Regions from separate parts of the Homo sapiens genome. Here region 1 is linked to region 2. The links come from fine-mapping of genetic effects on gene expression. A gene starts in region 2. The other region holds a variant in brackets. All regions are shown on one strand. Distances are between the middles of the regions.

The links. PIP is the estimated chance that this variant, and not a neighbour inherited with it, causes the effect.
Region 1: its variant is the best candidate, but not a certain one, in a credible set for the expression of SECTM1 in whole blood (TOPMed, PIP 0.66).

The regions. Positions count from the first base shown.
Region 1 is chr17:82,398,117-82,414,215 of GRCh38, reverse strand. It overlaps OGFOD3 (2-oxoglutarate and iron dependent oxygenase domain containing 3), which reads left to right. Exons shown (of 9, transcript NM_024648.3): 3 at 2,686-2,761; 4 at 4,806-4,848; 5 at 7,734-7,798; 6 at 8,836-8,892; 7 at 10,126-10,279; 8 at 15,897-16,020. It overlaps LOC124904090 (a long non-coding RNA gene), which reads right to left. Exons shown (of 3, transcript XR_007065956.1): 3 at 14,743-16,099. Among named protein-coding and RNA genes, the nearest start is that of HEXD, 12 kb to the left of the region's middle. RefSeq lists enhancers at 13,282-13,481, 14,212-14,818. The variant C/AC (reference allele first, on the strand shown) is at 6,023.
Region 2 is chr17:82,325,150-82,341,248 of GRCh38, reverse strand. It overlaps SECTM1 (secreted and transmembrane 1), which reads left to right and starts at 7,483. Exons shown (of 5, transcript NM_003004.3): 1 at 7,483-7,549; 2 at 13,957-14,102. The coding sequence starts at 14,009. RefSeq lists enhancers at 6,060-6,129, 8,177-8,979, 15,093-15,698, 15,699-16,099 and a silencer at 8,856-9,140.

The DNA of each region.
Region 1 (16,099 bases), 73 kb before region 2:
GTCAGGGCTGCAGTGAACCTAGAGTGTGCCACCGCACTCCAGCCTGGGTGACAGAGCGAGATCCTGACCCCCCGCCAAAAAAGAAAAAAGTTGGAATGAGGGAGGGAGGATGGAAGTCCATGTTTAATAGATTTGGGATTTCACCTGTGGGAGGTGGAAAAGTTCTGGAGGTGGTGCTAGTGACGGCTGCACGATGCTATTGTGCCCGATGCCACCACACTGCGCACTTTTTAAAAAGCTTGGCTAAAATGGTAAATTCTATCTTGTATATATTTTACAATAAAACAAATGGTTTGATGTATTTTCTTTTTCTTTCTTTCTTCTTTTTTTTTTTTTTGGACAGAGTGTCACTCACTGTGTTGCCCAGGCTGGAGTGCAGTGGCATGATCTCGGCTCACTGCAACCTCCGCCAGGCCTCTTGGGTTCAAGTGATTCTCCTGCCTCAGCCTCCTGAGTAGCTGGGACTACAGGCACCTGCCACCATGTCTGGCTAATTTTTGTAATTTTAGTAGAGACGGTGTTTTGCCTATGTTGCCCAGGCTGATCTCAAACTGCTGACCTCAGGTGATCCACCTGCCTTGGCCTCCTAAGGCCCTGGGGTTACAGGCATGAGCCACTGCGCCTGGCCTCTAATTTTTATTATTATTGTTTTTTAACTCATGAATTACTTGGAAATTTAAAAGATTTGGAAATGCGTGGGATTTTTGGTCCCTTTTCACAACGTTGTGGGTATTTCTCCTGACCCACGCTCGTGTGCACAAATTCTCATCACCAGTTTCTGTCTCCTTCACCCACCGGCTATGGAAAGGGGCGTCAGAACCTCCACTGAGCATGGACCCAGCAGCGTCTGTGCTTTGGTTGCCACGTGTGTCATGGGGCGATGCTGTCTGCTGTCTGCTGCCCCTTCCCCTTCCTGCCGAGTCGCTCCTGTGCCGCGGGGGACCCTCTCTTCCCTCTAGTGATTCTCTTTGCTAGTACAGAGGCTGCGCCACGGGCCTGTGTGGCTCTCATTGCATTTGCTGTTTGCTTTCCGCTTTCCTGTGTCCTCGCGTTTTGTGGGGTAAACCTTATAAAAAAGCATAAAATGACTTTTTGTTTTTGAAATACAACACCTATGTCCATTAGATCATTTAACCACAGTAACTACAGCCCCCCTTCCCTGATATTCAGCCAAGTGGAGCTCTGTTTATCTCCTGGCACAAGGCCCAGAGAAAGGAACCAAGGTCATCTCGGTGCCTTGTGATCCCTGGGTCCAAGCCCCTGATGCTGGCACTCAGCACTGAGTGCGAGGCTTTTATTCCCATGGTCCCGGGAGGGATGCTCCACGTCCAGGCTCAGGGCTGGCTTTTTAGGCAGGATGTAGGGAGAGGGAGGAAAAGCATATTGTGGAGTCCCGGTTTGCCCCATGTCCTGGTGCTTGTGGGCTGCTGTCTGATCGATCAGGCATGGCCTGACGCCTTTCCAGCGCATGAAGCCAGCTGCACTTGGTACCAAACCACAGGGGCGGGTCCCTGGGCCCCTCTCCGACACTCTGCTGTACCTTGTGCATCTGTGCGATGCTGCCTCGACCACCCTGCCCCTGCCCTGACCACCCTGCCCCAAACACCCTAACCCTGTCTGACCACCCTGCCCCTGCCCCAAACACCCTGCCCCTGCCCTGTCCACCTTTCCTCTGCCCAATGACCCTGACTCCTGTCCACTCTGATCCTGTCCCAACGACACTGCCGCTGCCCCAAACGACCTTGCCCCTGCCCCGATAACCATGCCCCTGCCCCGATAACCATGCCCCTGCCCCGATAACCATGCCCCTGCCCCGATAACCATGCCCCTGCCCCGATAACCATGCCCCTGCCCCGATAACCATGCCCCTGCCCCGATAACCATGCCCCTGCCCCGACCGTGTTGCTCCTGTCCCAACGACCCTGCCCCTGCCCCGACCACCCTGACCCCCATTTGAGCTGCTGCTTCCTCTTCCCTCTCAGCCTCCGCAGGTCACCAAGGTACGGGGAGAGACAGGGGCATGTGCGGAGCAGTTCGCTGTGCCCTGGGGAAGGACTGGGACTAGACCCACAAGCTCCACTCTGGTGGTCTCAGGAGGGTTTTCTGCTCCAGTGGTCTCAGGAGGGTTTTCCTCTCTGGCGGTCTCAGGAGGGTTTTCTGCGCCAGTGGTCCCAGGAGGGTCTTCCTCTCTGGTGGTCTCAGGAGGGTTTTCTGCTCTGGTGGTCTCAGGAGGGTTCCCCCCTCTGGTGGCCTCAGGAGGGTTTTCCTCCCTGGTGGTCTCAGGAGGGTTTTCCTCTCTGGCGGTCTCAGGAGGGTTTTCTGCTCTGGTGGTCTCAGAAGGGTTTTCTGACGGTGCCTGTGGGTGTCTGGACCTGCAGTCAGTGATGGTTCAGGAATGCTGTTGACGCCGTGTCTGGGGTTTCTGTGACTTTCCCAGGGTTTGGGGCAGCAACAGGTGCCTCTGGATTAAATTTCCAGTTGGAGCCACTGGAAGCCAAGGTGGCCCAGTGAGACGTGAACTCCAGATGCACCGCACAAAGCGCATGCACGCTGGAGAGCTGTGGTTGTGTGTGTCTGAAATTCACATTTGACCGGGCGTATTAGCCAGTTCTGGCCCTGATTCCCTGGAAGGGCATGCGCCGGTGGCCTTGGAAACTGCGTCTCACCCTGGCTGTCCCTTCACAGGCTGCACTCCCCGAAAGTGCGGCAGAGGTGTCACCGATGTCGTCATCACCAGGGAGGAAGCGGAGCGGATTCGCAGGTAACCGCCTGTCCCTGAGCACGGTGGGATTCAAACAAACACACGCGGAGTGGGGCTAGGGCGGGAAGCAGAGCATTGTTAGTAATAAAGTGGTTTTAAGGATTTTATTGCCAGGCGTGGTGGCTCACGCCTGTAATCCCAGCACTTGGGGAGGCTGAGGCGGGCAGATTGCCTGAGTTCAGGAGTTCGAGACCAGCCTGGGCAACATGGTGAAACCCTGTCTCTACTAAAATACAATAAATTAGCTGGGTGTGGTGGCATGTGCCTGTAGTCCCAGCTACTCAGGAGGCTGAGGCAGGAGAATCGCTGGAACCCGGGAGGCAGAGGTTGCAGTGAGCCAAGACTGCACCACTGCACTCCATCCTGGGCGACAGAGCGAGATTCTATCTCCAAAAAAAAAAAAAAGATTTTATTATAATTTTATAAGAATTTCCAGGCTGGGTGCGGTGGCTCATGCCTGTAATCCTAGCACTTGGGGAGGCCAAGGCGGGTGGATTGCCTGAGCTCAGGAGATCGACACCAGCCTGGGCAACATGGTGAAACCCCTGTCTCTACTAAAATATGAAAAATTAGCCGAGTGTGATGGCACACTCCTGTAATCCCAGCTACTCAGGAGGCTGAGACAGGAGAATTGCTTGAACCTGGGAGGCAGGGATTGCAGTGAGCCGAGATTGAGCCATTGCATTCCAGCCTGGGTGACAGAGTGAGACTCCATCTCAAAAAAAAAAAAAAAAAAAAAAAAAAGAATTATGTGCTTTCAAGGGCCAAGCTCAGATTTTCCGATTTCAGGAGAGGAGACCATGGCCCTCAGCGAAGCAGTAGCTGGGAGAGTACCCAGAGGCCCAGGTTCCTCTGCAGGGGTTGTGGCCGCCTCTGGGGGCTGCTGCTGAGTGCCCCATGCTCCCCACGGAGCCTCCGGGACACTGCTCAATGACCGCTCAGTGTCTGCTCTGAAACTGCCTCCAGGGAGCCCGTCAGCCCACCTGGCTATGACTTGTGGCAGCACAGGATGCCACTCAGAGGCTACTGGTGCTGGACTTTTCTTACTGAGATCTTAAAAGAAAGTTTTGATTTTCCAACCACTTGTTGAGACGATAAGCATGTGGAATGGTGTGCAGCCCTGGGCCACGTGCCCTGCCCTGAGATTCTCCCCAGGGAGCCTGCCCCCGAGGATGCTGCCTAGCTCCACGCAGGGTTACTGCTGCCTAGCTCCAGTGGGGTTACTGCTGTCTGACTGAGGCACCGGCGTGTCCCCACTTGGTGTCCACAGGCAGCTCCCAGCACCTGTGGCAGCTCAGGGTGGTCCTCTGTGGTCCAGCACAGCTGGCGTGTGGGTGTCTTTCTCCCACCATGGTCAGGGCCCCTATCTCCTGAGCTGGTGAATCTCAAAGCTTCCCCCACCTGCCTGGGGTTCCAGGAGAGATGGGGAGCAGTGGGCCCTCCCCTAGATGCTCCCCAGGCTCCTGAGCTTGGCCCAGGTGGCTTTCGATATTGAAGATGAGAGATTAAGCCCAGCCCTCCCTTTCTCTCTCTCTCTCTCTCTCTCTTTTTCTTTCTTTCTTGACAGAGTCTTGCTTTGTTGTCCAGGCTGGAGTGCAGTGGCGCGATCTCGGCTCACTGCAACCTCTGCCTTCTGGGTTCAAGCGATTCTCCTGGCTCAGCCTCCAGAGTAGCTGGGATTACAGGCACCTGCCATCACAGCTGGCTAATTTTTGTATTTTTAGTTGAGACGAGGTTTCACCATGTTGGCCAGGCTGGTCTGGAACTCCTGACCTCGTGATCCACCCGCCTTGGCCTCCCAAGGTGCTGAAGCCCAGTCGTTTCTAAGCTGAGTCAAATATTGACAAGACAACGATGGCAGTATTGTCGCTTACGCACTGAACTTTGAAAGTTGAGTCCTTTGGTCTAAACATTTGTTTACATCATAAACATTAAACACGCAGGACCCACTAATGTTGCATTAATTTTGCTGATTGACGTTTGCCTAGATTATACATTATAGACAATTCTAGCAACGAAATTCTGAATTATTTTCTCCCTGCAGCGTAGCTGAAAAGGGGCTCTCCCTGGGAGGATCTGACGGAGGGGTGAGTTGAATGTAGTCCCTGCCCCCCTTTTTTTACCCGTTAACTTTGCTCTCACTTGGATGGGAAGGGGAAGGCACAGACATGCAGGGTTCCCTGCGTGCCCCCAAATGTGGGTGGGGCCTGCCGTGGTGTTTCTCAGCACCAGCCGCAGCAGCTGCGCCTGACTGAAACCCGTGCGGCGTCCCCTCGTTGGGAAGAGTGTGTCCTTAGATGTGCGTGGCCATCTATTCATGGCATGTCACGGCCTGCCTGGCTCCAGTTCACACTGGGGGATAGAGGGGGTCGGAAGCAGGGAGCCGGCAAGGGAGCGGGGTGGGAGCCCAGCGAGGAGACGGCTGCGCATGCTGGACACAGGAGAGCCCGTGGAGCTGCCGGGAAACAGCAGGGCCTCCGTGGGACAGACACGCTGCAACGCATCCTGCAACTTCCTAGCTGGACGCCTCCATGGACGCCCTGTGGGGCTGTCGTCCCATGTGAGGCTGCAGGGGGTCAGCTAGTGGCCTCGGATAATGTGTTCACCTGGAGCCCGTGGACATGATCTGATTTGGAAAAGGGACCTTTGCAGATGTAATTAACTTAAGGATCTCAAGATGACATCATCCCAGATTTAGGGTCCTAAATCCAATGGCAAGTGCCTATAGGAGACAGAGGCAGGGGGAGATTTGAGAGGGAGGAGGAAAAGGTCCTGTGATGATGGAGGCAGAGATGGGAGCAGTGCGGCCATGGAAGAGGCGGGCAGGACCTCCCCTGGAGCCCTGGGAGGGAGCAGGGCCCCTCCCACACCTCGATTTTAGACTCCTGGGCTCTAGAACTGTGAGAGAATAAACTTGTGTTGTTTTAAAGCCCCAGTTTGTGTTACCACAGCCGCAGGGATCATGGAGCCACCGCCGGCTGTGGCCTCGCCCTCCTGTTGGGCAGTGGCTGGGAGTCAGTCTGGTGCAGCTGGTGTTAGCTCCAATTCCCATGCGGTTTCCTCAGGGTTGTTTTCTTGCTCGGTGTGTGGAATTGTCTGAAGATCTGTTTCTCTCTGTTTATTTGGTGATCGCTTTGAATTATAATCACTGAATAGACTTGAGTCTTTCTGCATATTTGAAACTTCTAGAAAATTAATTTATAGACTCTTTGAGAATTTCAAAGTATTTCTGTGATGGTCTGTGTGACTTTTTTCTGCAAA[C/AC]TCTTTTCTCTTGAGTTCTGAAAATTAAGTTCCTTTTTTTCTTCTTTTTTTGAGACAGAGTCTCGCTCTGTTGCCCAGGCTGGAGTGCAATGGGGCGATCTCCACTCACTGCAACCTCCAACTCCTGGGTTCAAGCCATTCTTCTGCCTTAGCCTCCTGAGTAGCTGGGACTACAGGCATGTGCCATGATGCCCGGCTAATTTTTGCATTTTAAATAGAGATGAGGTTTCACCATGTTGGCCAGGCTGGTCTTGAACTCCAGAGCTCAGGTGACCCACCTGCCTTGACCCCCCAAAGTGCTGGGATTACAGGTGTGAACCACCGTGCCCGGCCTAAGTTCCTCCCTTTATTTCAGTTTGGTTTGGTTCAGTTCGGGGGCTATTTGTTAAAGATCTGTGAGTGAGTAGGTTTCTGTTTCACAGCTCCTCCACGTTCACATGGGAAGTTGTCCTGCATGGAGCTGGCTGGGCCGCTGCTTTGGGTTCAGTTACTGTTCAGCGGGCCCAAGCTAGGTTAGTGCCGCAGGGCCAGTGGCTGTGGCGATGAGGAAGGGGCAGCAGTGGGGCTCCTCTGGGGTCACAGGTGGGATGACTAACGTGGGCTGGAAGCCTCTTCCTCTGAGGACGTAGGGAAGGACTGAGAGGTGGGTGGTCGGGCAGGAAACACTTCAGCAGTGGCTTACAAAGTGATGACTCAGGCTTGGCGTGGCGCGCACTGTGGTGCCAGCCGCCCAGGAGGCCAAGGTGGGAGCACCGCTGTGAGGCATTTACTCGAGAGAAGTCAACACTTGCCCACAGGGACACATGACTGTGACTGGCACGGAGCTGCACGGAGATGGCTCCAGACTAAAAATAGCCCACACGTGCCACCATTCTTTAGGTCACAGGGAACAAAAGTGTTTGGTCCAGGAAGATTTTTTTTTTTTTTTGAGATGGAGTTTCGCTCTTGTAGCCCAGGCTGGAGTGCAATGGCACGATCTCGGCTCGCTGCAACCTCCGCCTCCCTGATTCAAGTGATTCTCCTGCCTCAGCCTCCCAAGTAGCTGGGATTACAGCTCCTTGGGAGGCTATCTCTGTAGGTGTCCCAGCTACAGCTGGGATTACAGCTCGCCACCATGCCCAGCTAATTTTGTATTTTTAGTAGACATGGGGTTTCACCATGTTAGCCAGGCTGGTTTTGAACTCCTGGCCTCAAGCAATCCACCTGTCTCAGCCTCCCAAAGTGCTGGGATTGCAGGTGTGAGCCACCACGTCTGGCCGGTCTGGGAGGATTTTAAGAAAGTCCTGGGTTGAGGCTGGGTGCAGTGGCTAATGCCTGTAATCCCAGTACTTTGGGAGGCTGAGGTGGGAGGATCACTTGAGCCCCGGAGTTCGAGACCAGCCTAGGTAATATAGTGAGACCACATCTCTACAAAAAATAGAAAAATTAGCCAGGTGTGGTGGCGAGCGCCTTTACTTGGGAGGCAGAGGGTGGGAGGATTGTTTGGCCTGGAGCCTGGAATATTGAGGCTGCAATGAGCTGAGATTGTGCCACTGCGCCCTAGCCTGGGCAACAGAATAAGATCCTTTTTACAAAAAACAAAAACAAAAACAAAAAAACACCTGAGGTGTGTGCTGGCCAGACCTTGGAAACTCGCATTTACCATCCATGACTTTTAACAGCCATTGCCATTGCTGCGGCTGCACGCTTTACTCCACAACGTCTTTTCCAGGCATCCATTCTGGACTTGCACTCAGGGGCCCTGTCTGTCGGGAAGCACTTTGTGAACCTGTACAGGTGAGTGCTGCAGCATGACCTCAGTGCTGGCTCTGAAAGCCGAGTGAGCGGCTCCGTGCCTCTTAGCCATGGACATGTGGACACGTGGACATGTGAGGGAGGATCCGGCTCGGTGCAGCCTCAGGGCCTCAGTGGCTGTGATGTTGGCCGGGTCCTTCCTGGTTCTTTGGGACGCAAGAGCTGGGAGGTGTGGACTCTCCACAGCCTGTGGGCAGGGGGCTTGTTCATGAAGCTTTAGGGGAATCTGGTGTTTTTGTGGGCCCAGGGACAGAAGGGATGGGAGCAAGAGGCAGCAGAGATGGGAGGCTCCCAGGAGCAGCTTCCAAGAATCCAACGGGGCCTTTGACGCTCCATGAGGGGCCGGGAGAGCAAAGAGACCCTCCCTGCGTGGATCCGTGTCAGCCTCATGCATTAGCCCTGGGTCTTGCTCCCGGCTGGCTCCTTGTTTTTATTATTATTATTATTATTTTGAGATGGAATCTTGCTCTGTCGCCTAGGCTGGAGTGCAGTGGCGCAATTTCGACTCATTTGACTCTGCCTCCTGGGTTCAAGCAATTTTCCCATCTCAGCCTCCTGAGTAGCTGGGATTACAGGCACGCACCACCACGCCCAGCTAATTTTTGTATTTTTAGTAGAGATGGGGTTGTGCCATGTTGGCCAGGATGGTCTCGAATTCCTGACCTCAAGTGATCCACCTGCCTCGGCCTCCTGAGTAGCTGGGGTTACAGGCACGCACCACCATGCCCAGCTAATTTTTGTATTTTTAGTAGAGATGGGGTTGTGCCATGTTGGCCAGGATGGTCTCGAATTCCTGACCTCAGGTGATCCACCTGCCTCGGCCTCCCAGAGTGCTGGGATTACAGGCGTGAGCCACTGCGCCCGGCCCGGCTCCTTTATAGCAGTTATCATTGTGGAAATGGAGTTGCTCTGAATGTGTGAGTTGATTTTCAGGGACTTGAGGAATGGCTGAACTGAAAGGAGATGAACAACAGATTAATGAAGTGTTGTGACCTTTGTGAATACTCCTTTTTTCACAGATACTTCGGGGATAAAATACAGAACATCTTCTCAGAGGAGGACTTCCGGTTATACCGGTAAGGAGGAGTGAGGCGGGTGGGGGTTCGCAGGCGGGGTGGCCTGGGGCTGAGGGGTGTGGCAGAGCTGGCCGGTCCGGGGAGGCCCCACGGAGAGGCCCAGGGGCCAGGGCCAGGCCTGCAGAAGTGAGTTCTCATGGAGCAAAGGCCGGGGCAGGCCCAGCGTGGCCAGGATGCGCCCGGGTCGGTGAAACAGATCTGGAATCCTGTGGCTGCATCCTGGTCAGAACCTCTTGTTTTCTGCTGTGTAAAATCAGCCCAGTTTTAAAAATTCTGCCAGATGAGGCTGGGTGCGGTGTCTCATGCCTGTAATCCCAGCACTTTGGGAGGCGAGGCGGGTGGATCACCTGAGGTCAGGAGTTCGAGACCAGCCTAGCCAACATGGTGAAACCCCATCTTTACTAAAAGTACAAAAATTAGTTGGGTGCGGTGGCGGGTGCCTGTAATCCCAGCTACCCCGGAGGCTGAGGCAGGACAATTGCTTAAACCCCGGAGGTGGAGGTTGCAGTGAGCTGAGATTGCACCACTGCACTCCAGCCTGGGTGACAGAACAAGCCTCATCTCAAAAAAAAAAAAAAAAAAGAAAAGAAAAGAAAAAATTCTGCTGGAGGAGCCCAGGTTGAGATGAGGGCAAAGGAGCTAAGAGTCACGCAACCATCCCAGGACACATGAGTGACCCCCCTCGAGCCCCCCACATGGGCCCATGCCCACCCAGACATCCATTTCAGAGCCGCTCTGGCCTGGCACATGGGGTCTTCTGAGCGAGAGTCCCTTTGTCCCCAGTACAGACACCCCATCCACACTTAGCAGGCTCGACACCCACTCCCCTCTCCCCACGTCCACACACCCCGCACACTCACGTTGGGGGACAGCAGCCTCTTCGTTGCTGAATAGGAGGCTGGGCTCCAGGCCCTGCAAGTGAAGCCTGGAGGCTCTGGCATCTGGGGCCTGACTCCACACCAGCCTCCCCAGCGTTGGTCCTGCAGGCCCCCTTCTGCCTCCCCAGTCCTGCTGCTGTGGTCTTGCGCCTGCCTCTGGCTGCTCTGTGCGTGGGCTGTGGGCCGCGTCGTTCCCAGGCGGAGCCGGTATCTGTTCCCGGTGTGCTTGGGAGCCCCCGCCCCGCGGGCCCGGAGCCGTACGAAGGCTGGTTCCTTTCCTGCCACCCACGGGTTGGGACCCACGAGCGTCCCCTCCCGCCTGGGGCTGCGCTGACGGCTATTGTGTCCTCTGCAGGGAGGTGCGGCAGAAGGTCCAGCTCACCATTGCTGAGGCTTTTGGCATCAGCGCATCCTCGCTGCATCTGACCAAGCCCACCTTCTTCTCCCGCATAAACAGCACGGAAGCGCGGACGGCGCACGACGAGTACTGGCATGCGCACGTGGACAAGGTGAGCGCGCCCGTGGGCAGGGTGAGCGTGCCCGTGGACAAGGTGAGCGTGCCCGTGGGCACGGTGAGTGCGCACGTGGGCAGGGTGAGCGCGCTCGTGGACAAGGTGAGCGTGCCCGTGGGCAGGGTGAGTGCGTACGTGGGCAGGGTGAGTACGCACGTGGGCAGGGTGAGCGCGCATGTGGACAGGGTGAGCGCGCATGTGGTCAAGGTGAGGCCTGTTCTCCCGTGGCCTGGGGCTACCTACCACAGGGCTGTCTTTTGCAGCATCCGCCTGCTGTGTGCATGGTGTTAGGATTGATTGGTTGAGACAGAGTCTCGCTCTGTCGCCCAGGATGGAGTGCAGTGGCGCGATTCGGCTCACTGCAACCTCTGCCTCCCGGGTTCAGGCGATTCTCCTGCCTCAGCCTCCCGAGTAGCTGGGACTACAGGCATGCCCCACCAGGCCTCGCTAATTTTTGTATTTTTAGTAGAGACGAGGTTTCACCATGTTGGCCAGGATAGTCTCAAAATCCTGAGCTCAGGCAATCCTCCTTCCTTGGCCCCCCAAAGTGCTGGGATTACAGGTGTGAGCCACCATGCCCGGTGGGTGTAAGCATTTAGATGTCTTCCTCTCTGAGGTTTCAGGGCACACCCTCAATCTCACTGATGGAGTTGGAGAAATAAAATTTCTCATTTGATGGTGACAAGAAGAAGTGGAGAACCCGGCCCACACGGCCTGTGGTTACCCCATTGTTATTTATTAACAGACTGATGCTTAACCTCTTACGGCAGATGGTCTCTGCTCAGCCACTCATGCTCTCTGTGGCCCAGGTCTCTGTGTTGTCTCTGGGAGCCTTCTTTTACCACTTTCTATCTTTCTTTCTTTTATTTCTTTTGAGTTACAGCTTCACTCTGTCACCCAGGCTGGAGTGCAGGTGTGCAGTCATGGCTTACTGCAACTTTGACCTCCCAGGCTCAAGCCATCCTGCTGCCTCAGCCTGGGACTGAGACTATAGCTGGGACCACAGGTGCGTGCCCCGACGCCTGGCTCGTTTTTCTATTTTTGTAGACACAGGGTTTCACTATGCTGCCCAGGCTGGCCTGACCTCCTGGGCTGAAGCAATCCTCCCGCCTCAGCCTCCCAAGGTGCTGGGATTACAGGCGAGAGCCATTACCCATCCCATTTCTTTTCTTTCTTTTTTTTTTTTAAGATGGAGTTTCACTCTTGATGCCCAGGCTGGAGTGCAATGGTGCGATTTCAGCTCACTGCAACCTCCACCTCTTGGGTTCAAGTGATTCTCCTGTCTCAGCCTCCCAAGTAGCTGGGATTACAGGCACATGCCACCACGCTCGGCTAATTTTTGTATTTTTAGTAGAGATGGGGTTTCATTGTATTGGTCAGGCTGCTCTTAAACTCCTGACCTCAGGTGATCTGCCCACCTTGGCCTCCCAAAGTGCTGGGATTACAAGCGTGAGCTACCATGCCCAGCCTTTTCTTTCTTTCTTTCTTTCTTTTTTTTTTTGAGACAGTCTTGTTCTGTTGCCCAGGTTGGAGTGCAGTTGTGTGATCTTGGCTTACTACAACCTCCGCCTCCTGGGTTCAAGCGGTTCTCCTGCCCCAGCCTCCCAAGTAGCTGGGACTACAGGCATGCACCACCACGCCCAGCTAATTTTTGTATTTTTATTAGAGACAGGGTTTCACCATGTTGGCCAGGCAGGCCTCAAACTCCTGACCTCAAGCAATCCACCTGCCTCGGCCTCCCAAAGTGCTGGGATTACAGGTGTGAGCCACCGCACCTGGCCCTTAATAAAAGATTTTAGAAGATAAAAGTAAAGCACGGCTAATACAAAGAATGGTATTATAGCAATTCTTTAAGGGTGATTTTTATGGTGTAGAAGCTGTGAGTTCCCTTCATACAGTCAACCTGGATGGAAGTGGTTGAATGGCACTGTGAGCCCTGGAGCTGAAGCTCAAATAGAAGATTAAAGCCAGAAAGCACATGGCTGGGGAGATTAGGACTCTTGCTGCCCCACCATGCCCGCTGTGACAGAGGAAGGAATGGCAGTTAGATGACCAGCTTTCTGTGCCGTGTGACATTTGTTACTAAATTATTCTTCAAGGGCAGTCTTTGTTTTTTTTTTTTTTTTTTTTGAGATGGAGTCTTGCTCTGCCACCCAGGCTGGAGTGCTGTGGCGCGATCTCAGCTCACTGCAACCTCTGCCTCCCAGGTTCAAGCCATTCTCCTGCCTCAGCCTCCTGAGTAGCTGGGATTACAGGTGCGTGCCACTGCGGCCGGCTAATTTTTGTATTTTTAGTAGAGACGGGGTTTCACCATGTTAGCCAGGCTAGTCTCGAACTCCTGACCTCAGGTGATCCACCTGCCTCTGCCTCCCAAAGTGCACTCTGTGCAGTTTCAGTTGTAATCAGAAGGAGAGAGAGATTGCAGTTATAATCTGCAATCAGCATCTGCCATCTTGGCACTCTGCTACTTGGCATTAAAATGGTAAACCCAGGGCCGGGTGTGGTGGCTCACGCCTGTAATCCCAGCACTTTGGGAGGCTGAAGCGGGTGGATCACGAGGTCACGAGATCGAGACCATCCTGGCTAACACAGTGAAACCCTGTCTCTACTAAAATACAAAAAATTAGCCGGGCGTGGTGGCGGGCGCCTGTAGTCCCAGCTACTCGGGAGGCTGAGGCAGGAGAATGGCATGAACCCAGGAGGTGGAGGTTGCAGTGAGCCGAGATCGCGCCACTGTACTCCAGCCTGGGTGACAGAGCAAGACTCCATCTAAAAAAAAAAAAAAAAAAGGTAAACCCAAGGGAACAGGAACAGTGAAGGAACCCAAGGCCTGGGACTGCCTTCAGTCCTCCTCTCTCCCTCTCGGGCTGCAGTGTCGGGAGCAGCCGGCGCCACCGCTTTGCCGTAACCACTTTAACCACTTCCTTTTTCACGACTGCACGGCACTTACTGGCCTTCCGCCGGCACAGACAGCAGATTCGCCCTGGTCCGGTCGCTCCCGGCTCCTTCCATGGCCCCTGACCGAATTTTGTCTGCTCATCAGGAAACCAAAGTGGCGTCTGAAGATCAGTGTTTTTCTAATTAGCAGAGACTTTACTTCAGTGAAACAGAACTGTTTAGAAACCTGGGTGATTTTCGTGGTGTTCTGTGGGGAGCTATTTTGCTATGACTTCTGGCCAGTGTACTTTATTTTAAATTTAGTTTTGAATAAATCATGCATCAAAATTTGAATATTTGAATAAGTAATGCATCCTACAAGATTTAAAAGTCATATATATATATATGTATATAAATAAAGGCGAACCAGTAACCCCCTCACCTACAGGTAACCACAGTCCTGAGATCTCAGAGTTCCTTCTTGAATTTCTCTGTGTGTATAAAAACGAATGCATAAGAATACCGCATTCTGTCAGTTGTAAAGAATCACATTTAAAACAGTTTTGGCAATTGTTCCTTCTTCCCATTGCATAACATAAGGCAGCTGTGGCTGTCAGATCATGGACCCTGGTATGGTTTCCTTTTTACAGAAGGCAGTGCAGTCCGCACGCGGCTTTGCTCACTTGACGTCTGTCTTACTCTGGTCTCCCCAGAATCAGAGCCTGGCATGGACTTGTGTTTGGGAAGCTTTTAAGGGGGGACTCCGGGGGGCATCTGTGAGGCCTGGAGGGGGCAAAGCCCATGGGAGCTGAGCCCAAGGGGCCTCCTGGCAGCTGGGAGGGGCAGGGGGGAGGGAGCTTGACCCACCGCCCAGGGCACCACCTGAGACTGGGCTTCCTTACAGCGGATTATGTGAGGTGGATATTGGCGGGTCGGACTGGGGGCTGGGCCCCAGCGTGATCCTGCTCTCCTTCCCAGGAGGACTCAGAGGAGGCCACCTTGCCCAGGGGGAGGGCCCGGTGTCTGCCTTCAAGCCTGGGCTCTCTCCACTGCACACGAGGCTCTGTTGTGTGTGATGTACCTAGCTCAGCGCCCGCACAGTGGGTGTCCAGTTCCGCGCTGGTGCGGCTCCATCCCCCTTCCCTCCCCAGAGTGTCTCTTTCCCTCCCTGGTCTGGGTGTGCTTATGACAGCTGAGCTGGGTGAGATGCGCCCTCCCCTTTGCAGCTGGTGTCCTGGCAGCTGCACCTTTCACCCCCAGGGCGTGGCCCCAGCTGGGTTCTGGAATGGAAGCTGAGTGCTGCGACCCCTGAGTGAAGTAAGCCAGTCACGGAGGGACAGATCCTGCCTGATCCCACGTCCGTGGGGACCCTAGAGTCGCCAGGTTCACAGAGACAGAAAGCGGAATGGAGAGGGCAGGACTGGGGGGCGTGGGGAGTCAGTGCTTCCTGGGGACGGAGCTTCGGCCTGGGAGGATGAGATGTTCTGGAGAGGACGGTGCGGTGGCTGCACAACATTGGAAATGTGCTTAACATCACTGAACTGTGCTTAAAAACAGTGAAGACACAGTTAAGCTGGAAAATCTTAGGTTCTGCATTTTATTACAAGTTTTAAAAAGCTTGGGATTGCTCCACTTCTGAAGAAAGGAGAAAAGCGCGTCCACCGCTGCCTCTGGTTCCCACGTGTGGGCAGCGAGGCTGGCACCGGGGGACCATCCCAGCATGCACACCCTGCTGGCTGGCCTGCTGCCCGTAGCCTTTGCTGGAACACGGCTGCTCCAACATCTGAGCTTACAGGAAATCCTGGGCAACAATGCATGAGGCTGGAGACTCTGCAGAGGGTTTTTAAAGTTGCAAAGGAACAAATGGCCTCATTAATGGGGCCGACACATGTTGTTAATTTACCTTCTGGAAAATAAGAAGCACAGATGTTGGTGACTCACGCGCGTAATCCCAGCACCCGGGAGGCTGAGGTGGGAGGATCACTTGGGGCCAGGAGTTTGAGACCAGCCTGGGCATCATAGCGAGACCCGCCCCCCTGCCCCCACCACCCCGCCCCAACCTCTACAAAAAATACAAAAATCAGCCAGGCACAGTGGCTCATGCCTCTAATCCCAGCACCCGGGAGGCCAAAGTGGGTGGACTGATGCCATCTCTACAAAAAAAAAAATAGAAAAGAAAAAATTAGCTGGTTGTAGTGTCGTGCGCCTGTGGTCCTGGCTACCCGGGATGCTGAGGCAGGAGGATTGTTTAAAGCCAGGAGTTCAAGGTTATGGTAAGCAATGACAGTGCTGTGACTGCACTACAGCCTGAGTGATGCTGTCTGTAAAAAAAGCGATACCCTATTAAAAAAAAAAAGAGGCTGGGTTCAGTGGCTCATGCCCGTAATCCCAGCACTTTGGGAGGCCAAGGTGGGTGGATCACCTGAGATCAAGAGTTTGAGACCAACCTGACCAACAAGGTGAAACCCTGTCTCTACTAAAAATACAAAATTAGCTGGGTGTGGTGGTGGGTGCCTGTAGCCCCAGCTACTCGGGAGGCTGAGGCAGGAGAATTGCTTGAACCTGGGAGGCGGAGATTGCAGTGAGCCGAGATCGCATCACTGCACTCCAGCCTGGGTGATGGAGCAAGACTCTGTCTCAAAAAATAAATAAACAAAAAATAAGAGAGAGAAGCAGCACCTGCCCTGGTCGCATGCTGAGAGCCCATTCTGCCCCCTCCTCCCGGCTCTGCCCTCAGGTGACCTACGGCTCCTTCGACTACACCTCGCTGCTGTACCTCTCCAACTACCTGGAGGACTTCGGCGGAGGGCGGTTCATGTTCATGGAGGAGGGTGCCAACAAGACGGTGGAGCCGAGAGCTGGTAGGAGGCGCGGGCGGGGCCTGGGCGTGGGGCTCCTGGCTCAGGCAAGCACGGTGGGTGTGGGGGGCGTGTCCCTGGG
Region 2 (16,099 bases):
AAAGTGAACTAAATGGACGGCCCTCAGAAAGCACCTTTTAGAATATTGCTGATCCTTGTTTTGTTTTTCAGAGTCAAAGAAACTTGAACTGTTCACGGCCTTTAATAATTGAGCAAGGTACTCTCCTGTGAACAAAATTTGGAGCATGTTTGTTTCTCTCCCTGGTTCCTCTAGAATTTGGAAACTATTTGTGAGTACTCTTATGGTGATACAGTTGGTTGCATCAGTGCAATAAGAATCCATTTTTCTTGGCCAGGCGTGGTGGCTCATGCCTGTAATCCCAGCACTTTGGGAAGCCGAGGCGGGCAGATCACAAGGTCAGGAGATTGAGACCATCCTGGCTAACACGGTGAAACCCCGTCTCTACTAAAAATACAAAAAATTAGCCGGGCGTGGTGGCGGGCGCCTGTAGTTCCAGCGACTCGGGAGGCTGAGGCAAGAGAATGGTGTGAACCCAGGAAGTGGAGGTTGCAGTGAGCCGAGATCACGCCACTGCACTCCAGCCTGGGTGACAGAGCCAGACTCTGTCTCAAAAAAAAAAAAAAAAAATCTCGGATACGCTGAACAAAGACAACTATCATTCCCATGCCCTCGGAGAGGGATTTAACCGAGACAGGAGATGGGGAGGCAGGTGCGGGACAATCTCATCCTAGAAAGACCGTCAGGGGGAAGCTCTTCTGGGCAGCGGCTCCTCAGGGAAGTTCTGCTGCCGCATTCTGATGTTACAGAAATGCTTCCTCGCCCTTCCTGGGAGGTGGTCTAATGCCACCCCAAACCTCCATCACTGACAGCCTCTCAGCATGGGGGAACTGGGTGTGAGGAAGCTGGGGAGGGCACTGGGGGAGGGTACAGGGGAAGAGGCACAGAGGGAGGACACGGGAAGAGGGTGTGGGGGAAGGACATGGGGGGAGGGCACAGGGGAAGAAGGCACTGGGGGGAGGGCACAGGGGGAGGGCATGGGGAAGAGGGCACTGGGGAAGAACACAGGGGAGGGCACTGGGGAGGGCACAGGGGAAGAGGGCACAGAGGGAGGACACAGGGGAAGAGGGTGTGGGGGAAGGACATGGGGGGAGGGCACAGGGGAAGAAGGCACTGGGGGGAGGGCACTGGGGGAGAGGGCATTGGGGGAGGGCATGGGGGAGGGTACTGGGGGAGGGCAGAGGGGGAGAGGACACCAGGGGAGGGCACTTGGGGGAGGGCAAGGTAGAGGGCACTGGGGGAGGGCACGGGGGAGAGGATACCAGGGGAGGGCACTGGGGGAGGGCACTGGGGGGAGAGGACACTGGGGGAGGCACTGGTGAGAGGGCACAGAGAAGCACTGGGGGAGGGGTTGGGGGCAGGGCTTTTGGGGGCACAGGGACTCTGGGGGGGTCTCCCAGAGGCGTCTCCTCTCCAGCAGCCCAGAACCAGATCCTCACTCTTGGGTGTCTTTGGGAACCCTCCCTCCTCTCCCCATGAGGCTGGAGGAGGCATCTCCAGGAAGCTTCAGATCCAGGACCTGCGACCTTGGGCACCCTCGGACCTGGGCATTTGCTGGTGGTTAGAGTCTTCCCGGGAACAGCGTCCTGATTCTCTGGGAATTCCAGGAATCAAGGGGCAGGCAGCCAAGGGGAGAGAGTAGAATGTGGTCAGACCACTCCTCCTGCACGGAGCACCGTCCTGGGGGCACATTGGAGGCTCCCCTGAGTCCAGGGCTCCGCAGAGCAAGCAGGGCTGGGCACGGCCATTGACAGGATTCCTGGCCGGGACAGGCACGGCCATGACGCTTAAGTCAGACGGAAAGCAGCAGCTCTGTGGCCGGAGGACTGAGAAGGGTCTGCAGATGCCGGCGAGATGCCAGCCCCAGTGCCAGCCGGTGTCCAGGTTCTTGACACCATCATGAGGAAGAATTCGGGATGAGTAGGAATGAGACAAAAGGCAAGAAGCTTTTATTGTGAAGTGAATGCCTGCGCACAGGAGAGGCACGGGCGTGCTCCGAGAGTGAGTCACACACAACGAGGCCTGAGTTTCTATTTTATGGGCTTTCCTAGTTAGAGGGTGGAATAATCATTAGATTTTCTAGGAAAAAGGTGACGATTTCTTAGAATTGGGGTGCCAGATATTTTTATACTAAATATGGGCATGGTTGGATCTGCCGTGACGCTGGTGTGTACGTGATTGTGAATGGCAGTCAGTGTGCAATTAGGTCTGGGGTGGGCACAGGTCAAGCCTAGTGCCACGGTGGATCCGGCCAGCCTCCTCCAACGTAGCCTCTCCTGCTTGTGGGGTCGAGGGTCTCATCAGTCCGGGCTCATCCCTGCCTTTGTGGCTCATTCTAACAGCTGCTTTCCGTGGCTCATTCTAACAGCTGCTTTCCATGGCTCATTCTAACAGCTGCTTTCCGTGGCTCATTCTAACAGTTGCTTTCTGTGGCTCATTCTAACAGCTGCTTTCTTGCTTTTCTGCAAGATTACTGTTTGATATTTCTCATTTCTCCTATGACCACCCAGCATTCCTATCTCATTGGCTAGGAAGGATTACTATTAAAAGTATTTTCTCTTTCTCTCTTTCTCTCTCTCTCTCTCTCTCTTTGAGGCAGGGTCTCGCTCTGTTGCTCAGGCTACAGTGCAGTGGCCTGATCTCGGTTCAATGCAGCCTCGACCTCCCAGGCTCAAGAGATCCTCCTACCTCAGCCTCCCAAGTAGCTGGGGCTACAGGCACTGGCCACCACGCCCGGCTCATTATTTTATTTTTGTGAAGATGGGTCTCACTGTGTTGTCCAAGCTGGTCTCAAATTCCTGGCCTCAAGAGATTGTCTCACTTCAGCCTCCCAGAGTGCTAGGATTACAGGCATGAGCCATCGCACCCAGCCCTAAAAATGCCATTCTTTCTAAAATTAAGCTATAACAGCTGGGCACGGTGGCTCACGCCTGTAATCCCAGCACTTTGGGAGGCCAAGGTGGGTAGATTATGAGGTCAGGAGTTAGAGACCAGCCTGGCCAACACGGCAAAACCCCGTCTCTACTAAAAATACAAAAATTAGCCAGGTGCACGCCTCTAATCTCAGCTACTAGGGAGATTGAGGCAGGAGAATTACTTGAACCCGGGTGGTGGAGGTTGCGTGAGGTGAGATCGTGCCATTGCACTCCAGCCTGGGCAACATAGTGAGACTCCATCCCCCCCAAATAAATAAATAAATAGAATTAAAATAAAGTGAAGCTATAAAGACAGTGAAATCCCAAAAGAAATACCAAGAAGATTGGCAAGTGAAGGGGCTCAGGGCAACATAACTGGATGTTCGAGGAGCACAGCCTTTTCAGGTGGAAAATAACAAGCTGGGTTGTGGATTCCACCAAAAGCAGAAACACATGCTGGGTAAGAATTTAAAATTAGCCTCATATTTTAAAACTTCCGAATATTATAAAATAGATAAATTAGAATTAGGTTAGCACAAGACAAGAACAAGAGCAACAAAACGACAAAGACTGAAGCAAACATTTTAGACTTTTTATCTGTGGTGCCTGCCTGTGGTGCCAGCTACTCAGAAAGCTGAGGCTGGAGGATCGCTTGAGCCCAGAAGGTCAGGGTACATTGAGCTACGATCCTGCCAGTGAACAGCCACTGCAAGCCAGCCTGGTCAACTACAGGAGACCCCATCTCTTAAAAAAAAAAAGCCTCCAAATATATGATTAAAAATTCCTAGAACCACAAGAAGAGGCTGCTAAGCCCCCACCATAGGAGGCCATTCCAACCTATCTCTCTTAATTACTGATAGCTCAAGCCCATACAAATTGACAAGTATATAAAAATACAAAAAATTAGCTGGGCGTGGTGGCGGGCGCCTGTAGTCCCAGCTGCTGGGGAGGCTGAGGCAGGAGAATGGCGTGAACCCGAGAGGCGGAGCTTGCAGTGAGCTGAGATCGTGCCACTGCACTCCAGCCTGGGCGACAGAGCGAGACTCCGTCTTAAAAAAAAAAAATTGACAAGTATATAAAAGACCTAACCTACCCCACTGACACCTTGACAGGAGGGACACCTGCAGAGACCCTTGCTCCCAACAGTCAGAGAATATTACATGTTGGAAGGACCCGTGAGACCCTTCCAGCCAGTGAGCAGTGGGTACAACTGAGTCATGCACAAATCTGTGGGGCCGGTTGGCTCGGCTCCCAGGAGGCTGCGAGTCTGTCCACGGGCCGAGGGCTTTGGGGGGCGGCCCCCAGGTGGCCGGGGGTGCGCGGGCAGAGTGAGCAGGACAGTGGGAGGGTCAGAGGCCCTTTCATAAAAGTGCGCAGAGCAGAGGAGCGATCCCCCTAGCTCCCCCACAGAGGGTGCTGCACCTGCGGCCCCTGCGGAGGTACTGGCTTGGCCAGCCCGGGAGGAGGGGCCCAGCCTGTTGGGACAGGAGATGGGGTGCAGGTGGAAGGCTCCAAGAGGCATCTGGGCTGGTAACGCGCAGACATCCCAGGTGGGTTGGAAGTGGGTCAAGGAGGCCTGGAGGACCCGGTGCCTGTGGGGGTGGCAGGCGGGCCACATCCTCCACTAGAACCCGAGGTGGCGGCGGGGTCAAGGATGACGAGTTATCTTCGGGACATTAGGAGGAAGCCCCACAGGCTGCAGTCACGTGGGTGGGCAAGGATGAAAGGCAAGGGAACCCAGAGAATCAAGTTACAAAGAAAAGCAAATGCCGCCAGCACAGTGGCTCACGCCTGTAATCCCAGCACTTTGGGAGGCCGAGGCGGGTGGATTGCCTGAGCTCAGGAGTTCAAGAAAAAAAAAGCCTGGCTAACATAGTGAAACCCGTCTCTACCAAAAATAAAATAAATAAATAAATAAAAGCTGGGCGTGGCGGCACGTGCCTGTAGTTCCAGCTACTCAGGAGGCTGAGGTAGGAGAATCGCTTGAACTAGGGAGGCGGAGGTTGCAGTGAGCCGAAATCGCACCACTGCACTCCAGCCTGGGCGACAGAGCAAGACTCTGTCTCCAAAAAAAAGAAAAGCAAATGCTCCAGGACCTTGGGGATTTTAAGAATATGCTGCCGAATAATTTGGAGAGTTAAACAGAAAATCATAACTGAAATCTACAAATTCCTCGAACAGAAAGGAAATGAAACTCCACATGTCACCTGGCACAGCAGAGGCTGTGATTCAAGGACAGGCTGAGGGTGAATGAATCCACACATCCGCTCTAAGATGCCTGATCCCAGCATTGTATAGAAATGGAAAGATACGGCCGGGTGCAGTGGCTCACGCCTGTAATCCAGCACTTTGGGAGGCCAAGATGGGCGGATCACAAGGTCAGGAGATCCAGACCATCCTGGCTAACACGGTGAAACCCCGTCTCTACTAAAAATACAGAAAAATTAGCTGGGCGTGGTGGCGGGCGCCTGTAGTCCCAGCTACTCAGGAGGCTGAGGCAGGAGAATGGTGTGAACCCAGGAGGCAGAGCTTGCAGTGAGCCGAGATTGCGCCACTGCACTCCAGCCTGGGCGACAGAGCGAGACTCCGTCTCAAAACAAAAAAAAGAAATGGAAAGATACTGCCCAGATGTGGTGGCTCACACCTGTAACCCCAGCACTTTGGGAGGCCAAGGCAGGCGGACCACCTGAGGTCAGGAGTTCGAGACCAGCTTGGCCAACATGATGAAATCCTATTTCTACTAAAACTACAAAAATTAGCTGGGCGTGGTGATACATGCCTGCAATCCCAACTACTCAGAAGGCTGAGGTGGGAGAATCAGTTGAACCTGGGAGGCAGAGGTTGCAGTGATCGAGACTGCAGCACTGCACTCCAGCCTGGGCAACAGAGACTCCGTCTCAAAAAAAAGAAAGAAATAAACGTGAGTGGATGGCTGTGCTGTTTGTATGGACCAGGAAAACTTCTAGAAGGATAGGTAAGGCAGTGTCCATAACTCAACCTGGGAATTGAAGCCAGGGTGGGGAGGAAAAGGCAACAGTTGGTTTCATTCTATTTTGTTTCTGTGCCTGTATTACTTCCAAAATAAACAAACTAGTTTCACTTTCACAACATGAAATGCTTTATCAGGATATGCGTTTTCCTCCAACCCCCAGTGGTGTCCCCTCACGGGACAAAAGCCTGCCAGCCTTCAGCTGCCCTCCAGAGCCTCACGGTGCAGGTGCTCCTGCCTAAGCAGCCGGACCCCCCTGCCCCCAGGAACTGCAGCCCCCTCTGAGTTGAGAGATCTAGTAGGCAGGAAAAAAGGAGAAGGAAGCTGTGGCTGCTGGGGGATGTGGCCTCGGGGACAAGCCCCTCTGTGCAGAGGACGTGGGCAGGTGGGATTTCAGCCCCCTCTCCAGCATCTCACTGGCAGCCAGGGTGGCTGGGGTTTCCCCGAGGGCGGGGGCTGGGGAATCTGACCTCTGTGCCCCGGCCATGGTGCCGTCTTGCTGGGAGGATGACAGGCTGTGTTTCACCTGCCAATTTGGCGACAGTTTCTCTTTTGGAACATCCCGGGGGACTTTGTTCTGTGCCACCCACCTCTGGACCCTGGGTCTGATGGCTGAGCTGCAGGCTCCAAGGTTCAGCGTCCAGTCTGGCCCTGCTCCGTCCATTCCCCACATTTGAGGGTTTCCCGGAGTTTGGTTCTGCTTCTTCCTCTCTTCCATGAAACTGGGGGCATTGCCCACGCCCCAGTGTCCCCCATCATCTGCCCGGTGGGGACTTGCCCACTCACGTGACTGCAGCCTGTGGGGCCTCCTCCTAGTGTCCCGAAGATACCTGGTCATCCTTGACCCCGCCCGCACCTGCCCGCGTGCCCCCTCGGGTTCTAGTGGAGGACGTGGCCCGCCTGCCACCCCGCCAGGCGCCGGGTCCTCCAGGCCTCCTCGAGCCACCTCCTGCCCACCTGGGATGTCTGTGGGTTCCCGGCCCGGATGCGTCTTGGAGCCTTCTACCCGCACCCCAATCTCCTGCCCCAACAGGCTGGGCCCCTCCTCCCGGGCTGGCCAGGCCAGCACCTCCGCAGGGGCCGCAGGACGCCTGAAGGCCCAGGCCGCAGGTGCAGGACCCTCTGCGGGGGAGCTGGGGGACATCACTCCTCTGCTCTGCGCGCTTTTATGAAAGGGCCTCTGACCCTCCGGGGGTCCAGCTCACTCTGCCCGCGCACTCCCAGGCATCTGGGGGCCGCCCCCCGCCCTCCCTCCCCGCGGCCCACTCGGCCCGCCCAGCTCGCCCCGTGCACAGACTCGAGGCCTCCAGGAGCGGAGCCAAACAGCCCCGCGGGGAACGCGCGCCGCACGCGAGCTGGACCCGCCCAGGCACGAACTCTCCTGGAAAAATGCTCCCGGCGGCTTTCCTGCTTCCTTTAGCGTGAACCGCGGGTGCGGTGCCTCCCGTGAAAATAATAAATTCACCGTCACGCTTGTTGTGAACGCGGGTGGTTCCCGAAACTTGGAGGCTTCCCGTAAACCCAGCTCCTTCCTCATCTGGGAGGTGGGTCCCGCGCGGGTCCGCCGCCTCCTCCCTGGCCCCTCCCTCTCGTGTCTTTCATTTTCCTGGGGCTCCGGGGCGCGGAGAAGCTGCATCCCAGAGGAGCGCGTCCAGGAGCGGACCCGGTGAGGCGCGGAGAGGGGCGGGCGGGGGAACCAGAGGGGCGGGCTCGGTGCTGGGGACTCGGTGCTGGGGACTCGGTGCTGGGGACTCGGTGCTGAGGGCCCGGTGCTGGGGACTCGGTGCTGGGGGCTCGGTGTTAGGGCCTCTTGGTGCACTGGGGTTGCCGGTCCGCGCAGGGATGGGGACTCTGGGGCTGCGGCGCCTCTGCCTCTGGGACCGTCACCCCCCGCTGGCCCTGAGCGTGCGTCGCAGGCCAGGCGGGCGGGGTCGCAGCGGGCGTACCCGAGTATGGGCGGGAACGAGCTGCCGGCCGGTGTGGGGACCCGCGTCCCTGCCCTGTGCGCCAGGCTCGACTCTTGAAGGGACAGAGGCGGCGTCTCGGACCCGGGGCTCCCCTAAGTCCGATGGGTCGGAGCCCCCTCCTCCCTTCCCGGTCCTCGGCCTCACCCGGGGTTCCCTGCGCCGTCGCTGCGACCAAGCTGGGAGCAAAACGCACTCGCTCATATGCGTGCACACAAGCTGGTGGACACACGCACATGAGCACACGCAGGCACGCGTGGACTGTTGCACACTCCACAGCCACAGCCTCGTGTGCACTCACAGCAAACTCATGAAACAGGAACCGTGAGGCTTCCCTCACCCGGCAGGCCCTCAGCTGCCCGTTCTCACGCGGGTTTTGCTGACTCCGCAGTAATCACCACATTCAGTTCCTTGCCCACTACTGGTGAATCACCTGCAGCTTGAGAAGCACGTTTTCTGCCGGTGGTCAGCAGAGGATCCCCGGCTTCTAGGAGGCCCAGGGCGACCGGCTGCAGGAGCCCGCGTAGGAGGCCTGTCTCCAGCAGGGCGGGGGTGGTGGCAGGGCCTCTCCACGGGGCTGCTGCTGAGCCCAGAGCGGGAGGACAGGAGGCCACCAGCAGAGGGGACAGGTGAACAGGTGCTGAGCAGGAAGGGTTAGCCCGGTCTAGCCCCAGGCCTGGGGGGCTTTGCTGCTCACCTGGGGTCCCCTCTGGGCCTGGCTCAGCAGAGACCAGGGCAGAGCCGTCCACACCGTGGGCCTGGGTGGGGTCCATGGCCTCTGCAGGCTGCAGCTGTCTTCTGAGAGGTGTTGGTGTGCTCATTCTCGGTAGAGACGTGGGGTCACCTGTGTTCCCTGAGCCCCTGCAGCAGCTGGGAAAGCAGTGTCAGCCACCCCTCAGGTGCTGTGGGGGTACAGAGTCCACTGACCACACAGGAGGACCCCAATGAACCCAGCCCGAGGGGGCCGGAGCTTCCACACACCCAGCACCCATGGGAGCCGGGACAGGCAGGCGCCCGGGGCACCAGGGAGCGGGAACAGGCATGCGCAGGCGTGCTGGGCGGTGCGTGAACTTTCCTAGGCGTGTCACTGGCATGGCTCCAAGCCTGCGCATCATCGCTTGTCAGGGAGCACTCAGACCCTGCCGTGTCTGGTGCCGGCGCCTCAGATACCGACCCCTGTGTTCGTGGTTTGAGAGAAATCTGATTGCCGCCTCCATCTTTTCCCGCTCTAGAAGTTTGTTTTTTGTTTTGTTTGGTTTGAGACGGAGTTTCGCTCTTGTTGCCCAGGCTGGAATGTAGTGGCCAGATCTTGGCTCACCACAACCTCCACCTCCCTGGTTCAAGCGATTCTCCTGCCTCAGCCTCCCAAGTAACTGGGATTACAGGCGTGCACCACCACGCCCGGCTAATTTTTTTGTATTTTTAGTAGAGACGGGGTTTCACCACGTTGTTCAGACTGGTCTCAAACTCCCGACCTCAGGTGATCCACCTGCCTCAGCCTCCCAAAGTGCTGGGATTGCAGGCATGCGCCACCGCGCCCGGCCCACTCTAGAAGTTTTGAGGCTCCGTGCGCCTCGTCTCCCTGTACCTGGTCTCCCTGTGCCAGGTCTCCCTGTGCCACACACGGAGCTGCCCGGCCAGTCACCGCCCACCTGGCCACTTTCCCTGGGGCCGCGCCCTGCCGCCTGCCCTCTCTCTGATTTTTAGCCACTGCGTGGCATTCAACTCAAGCCCACGCCTCTGGTCAGGAGGATGGCAGGAGAGGACTCAGGCAGACGGGCAGAGTGGCAGAGCTGCCAACAAAAACGCAGGATACCCAGTAACATCTGAGTTTGAGATCGTTAATCGTGTTTTAATATAAGTGTGTCCCGAGTGTCCCACGGGACAAGCTTTCACCAGGACATCATTGGTTGTTTATCTGAGACTCAGATGTGACCAGATGTGCCTGGTGACCTGAGAGGGGCCTGTGTTGCCAGGGTGCGTTTTCTTCTGATAAACGGAGCAAATTCCCACAGCAACCCAAAGTCGCTGACACCTGCTGCCCAGACAGAGCTGGGGCCACGCATGGTCCGCAGCCTGAAGCCTCGGGGTAGAGCCAGACCTGCCGCTCTCCTCCCGGTCTCCCCCCAGCTCCCTACCCCCTGAGCCCTTCAAAGTCATTCTCAAGCCAAAGACAGGGGTCTTCCAGGCCCAGGGCTCCCCTCCACGGCTGACTCATTCCACACCTTTCCCGCCACTTGCCGGGTGTGGACCGACAGGAAGGGCACCGCCACCTGCTCCTAGTACCCTCCAGCCCATCCCTTGCCGCCCTTCACCCCTGGCTGGACAAGGGTCAGGGTCGCCAACATTGGAGGGCACTCAGTGGGGAGCTGGTGAAGGTGCTGGGAGGAAGGGAGGACCGGGGAGAGGCAGTGAGAGGACCCGCGTGTGAGAAGCAGCGGCCGCCACCACAGTTGGGCTAAAGGGACTTGGTGGGGAGGCAGCATCTCCGGAACGGTGCAGTCCAGGCCGCCAGGGGCTGAGACCATGGAGAGGATGAGGCCAGAAAGACGGACAGTGCCAGCTTCTCACTCCCACCCCCCTCTCCCCAACCACTGCAGCCCAGGGCCCCAGGTCTTCAGGAAGCAATCGGCAGGGAGGCTAGGAGCCAGCACTGCAGGGTCCACCCTCGGTGGCAGAGGCATCTAGGAGCAGCTGTAGCCCCCGAGAGCAGAGGCTCCACCGAGCTGCTGGCCCCATGGAATGCACAGCGGGCAGACTTGGGACACTCAGGGTGGAGGGGAGGCAGATGCAGCCACTGCCAGGCGGGAGGAGCTTGGCATGAAGCCAGGTGCGTGCAGCTGGCCCTTGGGGGCCTCCAGGACCCAGCTGCTGAGGTCTGGCTCAGGGTGCAGCTCTCTGCCGAGTCAGGGCTGACTCAGGACACAGACGGGTGGCAGAGCCAGCACCTGGGTGGGCAGGTGGGGTGGACGCAGCGCTGTCGGGGCTCTCTGGGGATCTGTGACCTTTGGCTGTGTGCCCAGAATTCCCACCCCTAACACATGGCAGGGGCAGTCCCTGGAAGCATTTGTGAAACAGACTCAGATGGCCTCCAGGCTCCAGGTGAGGGCAGGACTCCCCAGAGCAGCCTGGGGAGAGCAGCAGGGCATCCCCTCCCGGACACGGTCGGCGGGGTGGTGCGGAGAGCAGTGGGGGAGCCCCCAGCAGCCCCGACCCTCCCTGCTGTCCATCTGCACGGTTCCAAGGTGGGTGGCTGAGCTGGCATCGTGGAGCGTGGGGTGAGGGAGCCGGACCCAGGCCCCCTGGGGTCTCCTTGTGTGAACCTCACCTCCATGCAGGGGTCTGCAGGTGGCCTGGGTCTCCCACCGCACTGGGGGTGGGGGTTCTGTGGTCGGCTACCAGTCCCCAAAGATGTCACGTCCTCATCCCAGAACCTGACATGGCAAAGAGACTATGCAGATGGGATGAAGCCTCGGGTGCTGAGCTGGGGCATGTGTCCTGGGTCACCCAGGGGGGCCCTTGATGCCATCACAGGGTCTCCAGGAGAGGGAGAGAGGAGGGGGAGTCAGGGAGATGAGGGAAGCAGCTGGGGGGCAGTGGTGGGGAGATGGCAGAGGGGCCATGAGCCGAGGGATGCGGATGCCTCTGGACGCTGGAGACGGAGAGGGACAGATTCCGCCTGGAGCCTCCAGAAGGGACCACCCTGACCCACCCCTTGATTTTAACCCAGGGAGACCCCGTCGGACTTCCAGCTAATCTAGAATGCTGGACGTATGATGGGAGATGGGGCCCGAGCCTGTCTCCAAGCCCATCTGAGCAGCCCTGAGGGGTCACAGCAGGAAAGGGGGTGTTAGTGAGGGGCCACAAAAGGTCTCAGGTGTGGGTTCCCTCCCCTTGCACTCAGCCCTGACAGGGTGGGGTGGGGTTTCCAACAGAAGGGACTGGACTTGTACTGAGCATAGCGGCTGCCTGGAGTGGGGAACCCAGACCTCAGGACACGGCACCCGCAGCCTGCGCCAATGTGGGACCATCCCTGAGCCTCAGCAGCACCTCGGGGTTGGTGACGTGCCTCCCAGCAGTGACAGTGTCCCCACACCTGCACTCTGCGGCTGGCAGGGTCTTCCACGTGGAGGCAGGACCATGGTGAGAGTATGGGAATGACCGGGTGGCTGCCTGTGGCTGTGCAGGGCCCAGGGATGACTAGAGGCATGTTCACAGGGGGTTGGAGCGCTTGGGGCAATGGGACGAGAAGGCCGGAGCCCGTCTGCAAGCCAGGTCCTCAGCAGGCCCAGACTCCAGGCTCCAGGAGGACCCCTGGTAACATGGGGTCCCCGGGGTTGGTGACGTGTCCTGCTGTGACACTTTCTGGTGGTTTATTTGTTTGGAGAAACACACATCTATAAATCTATAGACATCTATAAATAGCACGTCTGAAGGTCGCTTTACAGAGTTCCCTCATGGGAGTTCCCTGCAGGTCATCTGCACTCCGGCGTGTGGGCTGCACTGGGAGCTGGGAGAGGCAGGGCTGGAGTTGCCGCCCTACCTAGGGACTTTTCCTAGCAGGGGTGCAGGCACCCGAGAGGCAGGGCAGCCTGGCCACGAACCCTTGCCCCAGCCGCCTTCGAAGGTGGAGTTCTCTCGGCTGAAAGGCGTGTCCTGCCAGGGCTCCTGCTGGGCCTTACCCGCTGCCCCACCTGGAACAGACCCAGGCTGCCTCCCCTCACTTTCCCTTCCCTGGTCCCTTTCAAAGTCCAGCAGGAACGTCAACAGGTTCATGCAAAAGCACGTCACCTGGTCCACGTGAGGGCCTGACCTTTGACCAGCCCAGGCATCGGCCCAGACCCCACCGGCGGGACTGACTGAGTTAGGGTTGGGGTTAGGTTAGGGTAGTCTCCTGTGCAAGGCTGAGCTCCTGCGTGGAGGCAGGTGGGGCTTTGTGGAGCTTCCACACAGGGACCCTCATCCCCCAGCCACTCTCAGGGGATCCAGATCCACACGGATCCAGCACCTCCTGTATGCAGGGCATGAGTGGGGACCCCGTGGGAAGCACAGAAGCGGCGACCTCGCTGGGGCCTGTGAGAGGCTCATCACTGCCTGTGGGGCCCTCCCCCAGCACCGTGGGTGTGTGCCCTGGAGCCGCCTCTGCCTGGCGGGAGAGGAGCCACACAGCTAGGGGGCCCCTAGTGTTTGCAGGCCTGAGACAAGATGGCACAAGGAGGCTCGCCTGCTGGAAGCTGCCCAGCAGCCTGCCTTGCCAGTGAGAGCAGCAGAGGTAAAGCTGACTTGCGCATTAGGAACACACAGAGGTGTAAACGATGGATTCGAAAGGAACGCAACTGAGTGCTGCCCCGGGAGGGGGGCTGGTGGACGGGCAGGGTGGTGGGGGGGCTGGTGGACAGGCCGGGGAGGCTGATGGACAGGCTGGGGAGGCCGGTGGACGGGCAGGGTGGGGGGGCTGGTGGACGGGCTGGGGGGGCCGCTGGCTGCAGGTTGTGGTCAGCGCTGGGCTTGGCTGGGGGAGTCGGACCCTGGGTGCTGGTCATGTGAGGGTCTCTGTGAGTGACTGGAGGTCTGGACAGGACCCACGAGGAGACAGACACGCTCCAAGAATTGTAATGCCGAAGCTCTGTGCCCTGGGTGTGCAGTGATATCAAACACATGCTCCTAGGTAGACGGAAAATTGGTTTCATGCTTAGCGTTGGTGAGGGGCTGGGGCTGGAGGCTGGTCTTAGTATAGTGTTAGGTCAGACACGGCTACCAACGATTCCACCTGTCCTGACCCATTTCTATAGGAAACATGCTCAGGCACAGTTACGAGTAATTTATTGTAAAACAAAAGGGCTGACCCGCAAGGCAGATGGGGTCCCCGCTGTGCTGCGGGCAACTCTGTCTCCCGCCCCCGCGTGTCTTCTTTGTTTCGTGAGGTCAGCATTGCACACCCTCTACAGGCACAGGGAAGGGAAGGAGGGCAGGGGCTCCAGCATCCAGAGCAGGTCGGGGAAGAGCTCGGGGACCCCCAGCCTCCCAGCCCCCGCCAGGTGACAGCCGCTCCCGCTGTCCCCTTCAGCAGCTGCAGGGGGCTCTGACCCATGGGCTTTCCTTCCTCCAGGGAGTGTTTCAAGAGCCAGTGACAAGGACCAGGGGCCCAAGTCCCACCAGCCATGCAGACCTGCCCCCTGGCATTCCCTGGCCACGTTTCCCAGGCCCTTGGGACCCTCCTGTTTTTGGCTGCCTCCTTGAGTGCTCAGAATGAAGGTAGGTCTCGGGGCCCCGCCTCTCTGCTGGGGAAAGGGGGGCCCGGTGGGGGCATGACAGGGGCAGGAGGGGTGGACTGAGGTTGGGTCCAGGTGCCACCAGACCCCCGATAATGACTGACTCTGCAGACCCAGGGCCTGACCATGTGGAGCTGGGCTGCCTCAGGTGGCGGTGAGTGGACCGTGTCCCGCCGTGGGTGGAGGGTGGTGGTGAGTGGGCCGTGTCCCGCCGTGGGTGGAGGGCGGTGGTGCCCGCTGTGGTACCTGGTGGTCACTGTCAGAGCAATTGTGGGGAAGGACCAAGATCACGACCAGTTTCCAAGGGAGAGGGTCTGGGTCAGTTGCGACCTGTGCCATGGCCGGGAACAGACAGCAGCCCTGGCCTGGGGGCTCCTTAGTCAGGCGCACCTCAGGCCTGCCAGGAGTGGATCTGCATTTGAACAGGGTCCCCCAGTGAGATCCTCCCCAGCTCTCTAGATCCCCAACCTGTCAGCAAAGTGACCTGAGGGGCTTTTCTTTTCTTATCTTTTTTTTTTGAGACGGGTTCTACCTCTATCGCCCAGGCTGGACGCCCAGGCTGGAGTGCAGTGGTACAATCACAGCTCACCGCAGCCTCGACCTCCTGGGCTCAGGTGATCCTCCCACCTCAGCCTCCCGAGTAGCTGGGACTACAGGCATGCACACCATACCTGGCTAAATTGTGTATTTTTTGTAGAGATGGGGTTTTGCCATGTTGCTCAGGCTGGTCTCAAACTCCTGGGCTCAAGTGATCCTCCCACCTCGGCCTCCCAAAGTGCTGGGATTACAGGCGTGAGCCACTGAGCCACCCGAGGGGCTTTTAAAAGATGTCAGAGCTCAGCCACATCCCAAACCACATCCCAAAGCAGTTCAGTCAGAATCCTAAGAACGAACAAAAAACAAAACAAAACTGAAAGGGAAGAATCCCAGGTGGAAGAACCCTGGTTTCGGGAGATTCTGCCCCCACCCCCCAACAGTGGTTCCAAAGTGTAACTGGGCTGGGGCACCCCCTGGACAGCCGCCCGCTGCCCTCGGGACGGTGTGAATTTGTGCAGTGGCCTTAGAGGCCCTGCAGTCCCTGAACACTCAGAGCGTCCAGGCAGGCAGCCAGCCTGCTCGTCAGAGGAAACTCAGTCCAGCCCGAAGGCCAGGTGCCCCTGAAGCCCACCTCCTCCCATGGGCACCAAGGCCCCTGGCACTTGCCAGCACATGGCACCCACCATGTGGTTTTGTATTTGGTGAAATGTGGCCAAATGGCGGCTCCAACCAGCATGCTGTGTGCTCCCCGAGAGCTCACCCTGCCGTCCGTCTGTCCGTCCATCCGTCCGTGTCCAGTCACTGGTGGACGCTGACGCAGCAGGGACAGTAGCAGCACCAAGACCTCAGGCTGGTACCATGCTCGGGCCCGACGGCCTGAATCTCAGGCATCCTTGAGCTGGCTGCTGGGGCAAAGGCCCCAGACCCTCTGAGGGAAGCAGCTGCACGGGTCGCTATGGGGCAGGGTTCACCCAGGAGGCGGGAGAGAGAGACTGACACGCCGGCTTGTGTCAAGGACTTGACCTCCCAGGACTGTGGAGCTGTGTATGGAGCTGGCCCAGCAACCTGGAGCTGAGCGGGTGGCCGGGAGGGGAAAGGGAATGTTGGGGGTGGCACAAGCAGGCTGGGCCCCACAAGGACAGGCTGGAACCCATGTCTGCTCTGCTTGCCTCTGAGGCTGGCCTGTGGGTGTCTGCAGAAGCCCTGCCCTTCCTCACGCAGCCGAGCACCTGCACCTGGCCTAGGCCTTGGAGAAACAGGAGGGAGCTGGGGGCGGTGGGGCCTGGCCACTGCTTCCCACGAGGAGGGTGATTCGGCAGGTCAGTGGCAGCACTCCTGCCACAGCGCAGCCGCCCGGCACACACCTGAGGCTCTGACTTCACCCACCCCAGTGGAAATATACAGGGGAGGGAGTTGATAGGAAATGCCTTCGTCCAAGCTGAC